2 separate regions of the Homo sapiens genome follow, and region 2 is linked to region 1. The links come from fine-mapping of genetic effects on gene expression. Tissue or cell type: hypothalamus. Region 1 holds a variant in brackets; the other region holds the start of a gene. All regions are shown on one strand. Distances are from middle to middle.

What was found. PIP is the estimated chance that this variant, and not a neighbour inherited with it, causes the effect. A credible set is the group of variants that fine-mapping cannot tell apart.
Region 2: it holds the start of LINC01546, and the variant in region 1 is the best candidate, but not a certain one, in a credible set for the expression of LINC01546 in hypothalamus (GTEx, PIP 0.65).

What each region holds. Positions count from the first base shown.
Region 1 is chrX:3,127,502-3,132,882 of GRCh38, forward strand. No RefSeq gene overlaps it. Among named protein-coding and RNA genes, the nearest start is that of ARSF, 89 kb to the left of the region's middle. The variant C/T (reference allele first, on the strand shown) is at 2,386.
Region 2 is chrX:3,269,571-3,274,951 of GRCh38, forward strand. LINC01546 (long intergenic non-protein coding RNA 1546) reads left to right here and starts at 2,250. Exons shown (of 3, transcript NR_038428.1): 1 at 2,250-2,348; 2 at 2,727-2,802.

The DNA.
Region 1 (5,381 bases):
GCTTTGAAGTAGATTTCAATATGTTTCATATTGAATATTTACATATTGAATATTCACATATCGGCATATTTACATATTGAATATTTACATATTGGCAAATTTACATATTACATATTCAAAAAGCATGTAATGAGTGGAGAATACCCCGAGGGAACATGCTAGCAGTGTGGTTACCATATTTGTCTTTCTCTTATGTTTTAGTGGAGAGAGAAATAACAGTACTAGTTCCTACTTCATTAGTACCAGGAGGAGTGTTTGGCAGTAGAAATAAAGGAACGTTAGAGGAAATTCCCCAAGTTTGGAAAGGAAGGAAGGATTTCCCGAGAAAGTGATGTTTGAAGGAAAATCTGATGGGTGAGTAGGGTAAGGGGTGGTAATATGGAGCATTGGGTCCTTCCTGGTAGAGTTTAGCAAGGAATGGAGTAGGGAAACTGTAACCATGAGATCAGGTTGAACCAGTTCAACTCAATTGTTTAAGCTGTTATACAGTTGAAACAGAACCAACATTGCATGTTGTGTAGCCTGGGCACAGGCAAAGGGAAAAAGCTTTGACCTCCAATCACACTGGAAACTGATGATGCTTCCCTATGGAACCAAAGACAGCTGGACATGACCAGAACCAGGATGCAGAAACCCATTCAGAAGCAAAAGGTCTACTCTCCCAGAAGACATTGTGCTGAAATCCACCATTCCATACCTTATTATAATAGCCAAGGTTAAAGCCCTTTGATTAAAACTTGCCGCACCAGCACTTCCACATACTTCTTTTTCTTTTCTTTTCTTTTCTTTCTTTTTTTTTTTTTTTTTACACGGTCTTGCTCTTTCGCCCAGGCTGGAGTACAGTGGCGTGATCATGGTGCACTGCAGCCTTGACCTCCTGGGCTTAATTGATCCTCCCACATCCACCTCCTGGGTGGGTAGCTGGGACCACAGGCATGCACCATCACACCTGGCTAGTTTTTGTATTTTTTGTAGAAATATGGTTTCGCTATGTTGCCCAGACTGGTCTTGAACTCCTGTCCTCCAGCAATCCTCCTGCCTCGGCCTCCCAAAGTGCCATCATTATAGGCATGAGCCACTGTGCCCAGCCACATACTTCTTAACCCATAAACATTTGAGCTAACTCCCCAGATCAGGGAGACAGATTTGAGCCCTGCCTCCTGTCTCCTTGCCAGTTGACCTCACAATAAAGTCTTAAAAAGAAAGAAAAAAGAAAAAAAAACCGGTACCCTACAGCACGGCGTGGTGGCTCACACTTGTAATCCAAGCACTTTGGAGGCTGAGGCAGGTGGATTGCTTCCGCTCAGGAGTTGGAGACCAGCGTGGGAAACAGCAAAACCCAGTCTCTACCCAAAAATACAAAAATTAACTAGGCATGGTGATGTGTGCCTGTGGTCGCAGCTACTCGGGGGGCTGAGATGGGAGGATTACTTGAGCCTGGGAGGCAGAAGCTGCGCTGAGTCAAGATCGTGCCACTGCACTCCATCCCGGGCAACAGAGTGAGACCCTGTCTTAAACAATAACAACAAAATCCCCAAAGCAATGCCCTAGTATTGGCTTATATACATGTCAAGCAGCAAGCCCATTGCTCAGTAACAAAATGGGTGACGCAACCCTGAAGAGCAGTAAGAACTGCAGTGTGGCTGGGAGACACAGAATGAGGTAAACGATGGCAAACATTGAGGACGGAGAGGTAGCAGGAAAGAAGCAACAAGTACAGATGATTCAGACCTCGTGGTCCGAGATGAGGAGCTTCTTCTTTATCCCAGGAACAGTGGAAAACCATGAAATGGGTCTACACAGAACACAGCGTGGTCAGGTCTATAATCTCATCTTCTACTGTGTCCAGAGGGTTTTGGACTAGAGAAGAATAAGGCTGGGAATTGAGGCGGTACAAGTTAGTGGGGTGTTGCAATCAAGAAAGGAAGAGATGATGAAATCTTCCACCTGGCTCCTAACATTATGAGAGCTGGCACGATGTAGACTGGTCCAGGAGCTATTTAGGGTCAAGCCACAAGACAGGAAGATTAAATGATTCATGATTAAATGATATTCGCAGCCTCCAATAAATCAACTTCACTATTATTCATCCTTGTTTTCTTGTTCCAGACCACCATCTCTGAGAAAGAAGTAGGATTATTGTCAGAAGTCTTCTTTGATCTTTTGTTCTTTCCTTTTTTAGGGGTTGGGGAGAAAGTCTCACTGTCACCCAGGCTGGAGTGTAGTGACGTGATGTTGGCTCACTGCAACTTCCACCTCCCAGTTTCAAGCAATTCTCCTGTCTCGGCCTCCTGAGTAGCTGGTATTACAGGTGTGCACCACCACGCCCAGGTAATTTTTGTATTTTTCATAGAGATGGAGTTTTGCCATGTAGGCCAGGCTGGT[C/T]TCAAACTTCTGGCTTCAAGTGATCCACCCACCTCCGCCTCCCACAAAGCTGAGATTACAGGTGTGGGCCATCACTCCTGGTTGCTCTATCCTTGAAGGGCTATAATGGAACCAACCAAGGAAAGAACATAGCAGCAAATGGCCACTCCTCACCTTGGTATTTCTGGGAATTTTATGAGGCTACTGTAGAAAAATGGTTTGATGAAATGAAGCCTGTGATCACCTAGTAAATTGTAGAGAAATGGCTTCCACATGTGAGGTTGTCCTTTCCCGAATACATGACCTTAAGGTGAAATGGATAAAACTTCTGGCTTGGAAAGGTAGTTAGTATAATTAGGACCATATTTATTTTTCAAATACAGAGTTGAGGACCCCTGTCGTTTTCTGTAATGCAAGTCTAAGTGGGCTCGGAGGGACTGTGAACTCTGGTCCTGGAACTGATTTCATAACCTGGGGCACGTTCATGGAAATATACGGTTGGAAGGGAGCTTGGACAGGTCTCTACAGATCCCACTGCTGATTGGTTTTGATAGAAGAAATCACTTACGTGCCTCTGTAGTTGACTCCATTTTAATAAGACAGCGCAGCTTCCTCTCTTCTCAGCTTTGAACATCTGTGGAGACAGAGAATAAGGATTCTCATGCCATCTTTTAATGATGCTTTTATAAAACTTTTGACTAGATCGCAGGGCTTGCCTCTACTTTTCTCAAGATGCATTAAGCATTCTTTCTTCCCATTTGCATTCACCAACCCCCTTAGCTTCTCTGTGTCCTCTCCAACCAAATATTTTTTTAAAAATAGGCATCTACACTTGACCAAAAGTTGAATACATGTCTACCTGAGGATACTAAAAGAGTTCTATCTTGATTTTCATACCTCTGACCTATATGTTATTTTGTCTTGTTAATAATCGTAACTTCCAGGCCAGGCACAGTGGCTCATGCCTGTAATCCCAGCACTTTGGGAGGCCAAGGCAGGAGGATCACTTGAGGTAAGGAGTTCAAGACCAGCCTGGCCAACATGGGGAAACCCTGTCTCTACTAAAAATTCAAAAATTAGCCAGGCGTGGTGGCACACGCCTGTAATTCCAGCTACTTGGGAGGCTGAGGCACGAGAATGGCTTGAAACTGGGAGGCGGAGGTTGCAGTGAGCCGAGATTGTACCATTGTACTCCAGCTTGGGTGACAGAGTGAGAGTCTGTCTCAAAACACACAAAAAAAACCAAACAAAACAAAAAACTACATTGTAAAGATATTCCATGAATGGGGTCATACTATTAGTAAATGTTTGGATCAACATCTGTAGTCCTTTTAGGAAGTAATAAGAAGGTATAAGAGGAGAGGAAAGAGATCTTTCATTGCAATCTATGTGAGGCTTTGGGTGTGAGCTAGGTTTCTGGGGTTTTCTCAGAGAGAAACAGCAAGAGAGAGAGAGGCATGCTTATATTCCATGCTGCCGAGAGTGGCAAAGATATGACAGCATTGCTTCAGCAGTAGTGGTGACATTGAGAGGGAGATGGTCGTAGGAAGTGAAGAAGGAGAATTTTCCCAGTGGAGCACTTTTTTTTTTTTTTTAATAGAGAAGGGGTCTTGCTATGCTGTCCAGTCTGGTCTTGAACTTCCGGCCTCAAGTGATCCTCCCACATTGGCCTCTCAAAGTGGTGGGATTACAGGTATGAGTCACCATGCCTGACCCACAGTGGAGCACCTTGGTGCTTGGCTATAAAAGTTATATTCCCAAGAAGCCCAAAGATGGAGAAAAAAATGTTTGTTGTGTTTACCAAAAACAAGGTGTCTGCTTTGTATATAACCCCAAGAGAGATCACCTGGCGGCCCCTCCCAAATATTTGGAGAAGAATTTGCAGAAAGTTCCAAGTCCTTCAAGAGTAAAGACACAAGAGTAAAAGAACACACCAACATTCATGATTTCAAAGTTTGATTTGCTCCCGAATCGAAAGCCAGTTTTTTCATTTTGATTCAGATCTATACGTTCACAAAAGCCATGCTCATTTTGCAAAACTCTTATGCTAAAAAGAGCGATGCTTCCTCCTTCTAAACAGAAACCCCTGTCTCTACAAGTGTCTACTTTTCCTACTTTCTGATAAAGGGAAGACAATCTACCCTGTCTGTTTAATTTTTTACATGCAGCCTCTCTGACACGTGGAATTGGGAGACTGGAGTGCCAAATCCGTTTTTTTCAGTGTGTAATTTTATAGCTTTCCCCAGAGCAAAAGAGGACAAGTCAGGCAAGCTGTAAAGCAGAGGGGAGGAATTTCATGGGACAATTTTATTATGCCATGAAATCAAGACAGAGTTTGATGCCAATGACCATCTTGGACAGGCAGGATGCAGAGAGAGATGAAGCCCGTGACCTGCAGAAGCGCACTTCGAAGAAGGCATGCTGCACCCCAGCCGTTCTCTTTGCCCTGAATGGTTCCTGCCTTATGGGACCAAGGAAACGGGTATTGCTAAAAAGGCAAAATTGGCAGCTTCCAGGAAAACTTCTGGAGGAATGTACTGAGGCCCCTAACAAATTAACATACGTTGGGTGGCTAAAAATAACAAGACTTTATTCTCCCCCAGTTCAGAACACCCGAGCCTGAGATCAAAGCATCTCAGGGCCACGATTCTCCAGAGGCTCTAGGGGAGGCTCCGTCCTGCCTCTCCCGGCTCCTGGGGGCTCCAGGCATCCCTGGGCTTGTGGCCGCACCACTCCAGTCTCTGCCTCCGTCTCCACATGGCCTGCTCCTCTGTGTCTGTGTCTGTGTTACCTCTTCTGTCTCTTATTTTATTGCATTTATTTATGTATTTTCTGCATCAAATCATCCATTGCTCTTCTGTCTCTTATAGGGACACCTCTCATTTGATTTAGAAATCACTGTGATCCAGTATGATTTCATGTCAAGATCCTTAACTAATTACATCTGCAAAGACCCTATTTCCAAATAAGGTCTCATTCCAGATTCTAGGCTTTAGGATATGGACAGATCTTTCTGG
Region 2 (5,381 bases), 140 kb after region 1:
AATAAATAATTCTCTTACGGTTACTCTAACTTCAACACTTCCATGTCTAGACTCGATAGTTTCTCTCCAAAAGTCATGTAGTTAATACCAATGGGTAGAAACCAATTGAACTGATTCCTGAAGAAATAGAGCACTCGTCAATTAGCTTTGGATGCATACGCTTGGGGTTTTGAGAGATGCAGATAGAGCATCTCAACTTGGACCCTGACTCATGAGGGTGCTTCGTGCATAATTTAGGAGGTCCGAAATGATGATGAAGATGAGGAAGGAAAAAGTAAAAAAAGAACAACATAAGAAGGATTGAGAAGCTCCTATAATTACCTAACAAGTCTGAGAAGATCAAATTTTAATATTTTTCCCAATGCAGTATGTTTTCCAATATGACAGATACACAGAGCGGACTCTGCACAGTAGAACAAATCTTTACTTTAGCAGATGTACTAATTGGATCTGTTTACATGATTCCTCCTCCTTCTTCTTCTTCCTCTTCCTCTTCCTCCTCCTCCTCTTCTTCCTCATCCTTCTTCTTTCTTGAAGACAGGGTCTTGCTCTGTCACCCGGGCTGAAGTGCAGTGGCGAGATGATAGCTCACTGCACTGTTGACCTTCTGAACAAAAGCGATCCTCCCACCTCAGTCTCCCAAATAGAATGTATATCTTTTTTTTTCATTTTCATAAAAAAAGTAGAGATGAAGTCTCACTATGTTGCCCAGGCTGGTCTTGAACTCCTGGGCTCAAGCAATCCTTCCACCTCAGCCTCCCAAGTAGCTAGGACCACAGGCATGTGCCACCACACCTGGATAATTTTTTTTTTTTTGTAGAGATGGGGCCTTGCTATGTTGCCCAAGCTGGTCTTGAACTCCTAGGTTCAAGGGATCCTCCCACCTTGGCTTCCAAAACTATTGGGATTACAGGCATGAACCGAACCACTGTGCCTAGCCAGTTTGTGTGATTTTTATGTCTGTTTAGCATCGCAGAGTCCTGCAAACTGCAAACAGACTAGTTCTATAAGAACAAAGTCTCCTTGTCCTCATTCAAAATATCAGATTCTATGGTAGCTTCGGGAGATGTGGGGCCTGTCGTACTCACAGTTCCCTTCCCAACTTGTCTAAAAGCACAGCATTAAAGTAACAGGGTCTTTGCATCAGAGCACTTTCCTTTTTAGGATGGAAATTCCTCTTTAGATGTAACAGCCAAGTTCATCTCTGCGCCTGAACTCAGGCTTTCAGGATACACTGTATATTTTCTTCTTTTATTCATTGTGATGCTTTTGTACCAAACAGAGTCTGTTTCATGAAAACAAATGGATAAATTAAATAATCAATTGAGTCGTCTTATTTTCCACCAAATAAACATGTAGATCGACTCTGCAGTCGCAAATATGACCATAATACCTTCTGAGCAGTAAAGAAAGAGTGCGTGAGCTGCCCCTTTTCAAACTTTTTAACCCCCAGTCTCTGCAGTGCCAACATTTTGCAGAGACAACTTTCTTTTTACTAGGTCTTTCATTCGTGCCAGTAGCAGTGGGCTTATACTGGAAGCCCAGAGAGATCACATTTGTAATAGAACTGTTTGTGCCGAAAGAGAAATTATCCTTGTCACTTAGAGCTTGCTAGAGTAGCAGTAAAACCCCCGAGATGAATTACAGATCTAATAATGAGCTTCCTCTTCCTGTCCCAGTCTGTCTGGGGAATGGGGGGAGATGACAATGTCCGCTGTGCCTACAGACATCCCTCGCATTGATAAATCTGCTTCCCCCTGCAGCTCTTTCCAACATAGCATGTCTTTAATTTATTACCCCTTTGGCTTAGCTCAGGGATCACTGAGTTCTGCCAGCTAGCATGATGTTAAATCCATGCCAAGTTTATGCGTCCAGTATTTCCAGGTGGCTTTCGAGAGGGGTCGTGGAGACAGGCAAGAAAACACACAAGGCAGCATTGTGCAAATTCAGTGTCAACTCCTTACATCTGCCCCACATCCCTTTCTAATTCAAGGCCACTCAGCTGATTCCCGCAGAGACTTTCGTTCCACGGTGGCTTTCCACCGTCCAGTGGTACCTCTGTAGCTGCCCTGACTCACTGTGCCATCAAAAATCTCCTTCAATCAAACCAGCCTCTGAATGCACTCGACAAGGTCCTGCATGTTGAAGCCTGCAATCTGCAAATCTGCACCATCTTTCTAAAGCTGCCTGCTGCTTACATTTTGAGAGGAGGATGAGGTTAATTATCGGAGGTGGAAAATAAATATCACAGAGCAGCTGGACATGGGGGAGCTTGCAGCGTCAGCAAATCATGGACACTCACCCTGCTACCCAGAGAGAAAAGGGACCCCTGGAGACTTGAGCAAAAGGTTGAGTATTTATAAGAAATGCCTGTGTGGCACTCCGGGGCACCGGTAAATATTTCAGAGGCAGGCATATTTTCCATAACGGATGACTGTTTGGGTGGGCAGGAAGTGGAGTTGCTATGAGTAGTCAGAATAACATTCCAGGACTGTAAATGCTTAATGAGCGTGTGTGTGTGTGTGTGTGTGTGCGCACACAAACACACAAACACACACACACACACACAGAAAGCACCATCTTCCTCAAAGAGAGGAAGTCCTTCATTGTTGAAGAAACCAAAATAAAATGACTTGTGGTTTTCCCCATGTCCTCTTGCGTTGTAAGTAAATACCTTCATAGAGACTCCATTTCTCCAAACCCTATTTATTCCCCATTCTTTGCAGAAAAATGCTGGTACATTTTTACCCCAGGAGGCACAGCCACCCCAGAGCCACACAGCAATGGATACTTAAGAATAAGGTAAGGTTGAGTATTTTTACTTTTATTTTTATTTTTTGAGACAGGGTCTCCCTCTGTTGCCCAGGCTGAAGTGCAGTGGTGTGATCTTGGCTCACTGCATCGATCTCCTGGGTACAAGAAATACTCCCACCTCAGGCTCCCAAGTAGCTGGGACTACAGACATGCACCACCTGCCTGGCTAATCTTTTTGTATTTTTTTGTAGAGATGGGGTTTTGCCATGTTACCCGGGCTGCTCTCGAACTCCTGAACTCAAGCAATCCACTAGCCTCAGCCTCCCAAAGTGCTGGGATTACAGGCATGAGCCACCACACCTGGCCTCTTATTTGTAATTTTTAAACGTTTTTTTATTTTTATAGATTTAGGGGATACCAGTGCAGTTTTGTTACATGGAGAGATTGCAGAGTGCTGAAGTCTGGGCTTTTACTGTAACTATCACTCAAATAGTGTACATTGTATCCACTGGGTAATTTCTCATCCCTCACCTTCCTCTCCCCTCCCTCCTTTCCCAGTCTCCAATGTCTCTTATTCCACTGTCTATGTCCATGTCTACACAGTGTTTAGCTCCCACTTATAAGTGAGAACATGGGGTGTTTGTCTTCCTGTTTTGGAGTTGTTTCACTTAGGATAATGTCCTCCAGTTCTATCCATGTTGCTGCAAAAGTCATGATTTCATTCTTTTGGGGGGCTGTGTACTATTCCATGGTGACATGGTTTGGCTGTGTCCCCACACAAATCTCATCTTGAATTGCAGCTTCCATAATTCCCACGTGTTGTGGGAGGGACCCAGTGGGAGATAACTGAATCATGGGAGCAGTCTCCGTCATAATGTTCACATGGTAGTGAATAAGTCTCACGAGATCTGATTTTTTTTTAAATTATACTTTAAGTTCTAGGGTACATGTACACAACGTGCAGGTTTGATACATAGGTATACATGTGCAGGTTTGATACATAGGTATACATGTTGGTTTGCTGCACCCATCAACTCATCATTTACATTAGGTATTTCTCCCAATGCTATCCCCCCGCCAGACCCCCACCCCCTGACAGGTCCTGGTATGTGATGTTCCCCGCCCTGTGTCCAAGTGTTCTCATTGTTCAATTCCCACCTATGAGTGAGAACATGTGCTGTTTGGTTTTCTGTCCTTGTGATAGTTTGCTGAGAATGATGGTTTCCAGCTTCATCCATGTCCCTGCAAAGGACATGAACTCATTCTTTTTTATGGCTGCATAGTATTCCATGGTGTATATGTGCCACATTTTCTTAATCCAGTCTATCACTGATGGACGTCTGGGTTGGTTCCAAGTCTTTGCTGTTGTGAATAGTGCCACAATAAACATACTTGCGCATGTGTCTTTATAGTAGCATGATTTATAATCCTTTGGATATATACCCAGTAATGGGATTGCTGGGTCAAATGGTTATTCTAGTTCTAGATCTTTGAGGAATCACCACACTGCCTTCCACAATGGTTGAACTAATTTACACTCCCACCAACAGTGTAAAAGCATTCCTATTTCTCCACATCCTCTCCAGCATCTGTTGTTTCCTGACTTTTTAATGATTACCAGTCTAACTGGCATGAGATGGTATCTCATTGTGGTTTTGATTTGCATTTCTCTGATGACTAGTGATGATGAGCATTTTTTCATGTGTCTGTTGGCTGCATAGATGTCTTCTTTTGAGAAGTGTCTGTTCATATCCTTCACCCACTTTTTGATGGGGTTGTTTTTTTCTCGTAAATTTGTTTGAGTTCTTTGTAAATTCTGGATATTAGTCAGATGGGTAGATTGCAAAAATTTTCTCCCATTCTGTAGGTTGCCTGTTCACTCTGACAGTAGTTTCTTTTGCCGTGCCGAAGCTCTTTAGTTTAATTAGATCCCATTTGTCTATTTTGGCTTTTGTTGCCACTGCTTTTGGTATTTTAGTCTTGAAGTCCTTGCCCATGTCTATGACCTGAATGGTATTGCCTAGGTTTTCTTCTAGGGTTTTTATGGTTTTAGGTCTAACATTTAAGTCTTTAATCCATCTTGAATTAATTTTCATATAAGGTGTAAGGAAGGGATCGAATTTCAGCTTTCTACATATGGCTAGCCAGTTTTCCCAGCACCATTTATTAAATAGGGAATCCTTTCCCCATTGCTTGTTTTTCTCAGGTTTGTCAAAGATCAGATGGTTGTAGATGTGTGGTGTTATTTCTGGGGCCTCTGTTCTGTTCCATTGGTCTATATCTCTGTTTTGGTACCAGTACCATGCTGTTTTGGTTACTGTAGCCTTGTAGTATAGTTTGAAGTCAGGTAGCGTGATGCCTCCAGCTTTGTTCTTTTTGCTTAGGATTGTCTTAGCAATGTGAGCTCTTTTTTGGTTCCATATGAACTTTAAAGTAGTTTTTTCCAATTCTGTGAAGAAAGTCATTGGTAGCTTGATGGAGGTGGCATTGAATCTATAAATGACTTTGGGCACTATGGCCATTTTCACGATATTGATTCTTCCTATCCACGAGCATGGAATATTCTTCCATTTGTTTGTGTCCTCTTATTTCCTTGAGCAGTGGTTTGTAGTTCTCCTTGAAGAGGT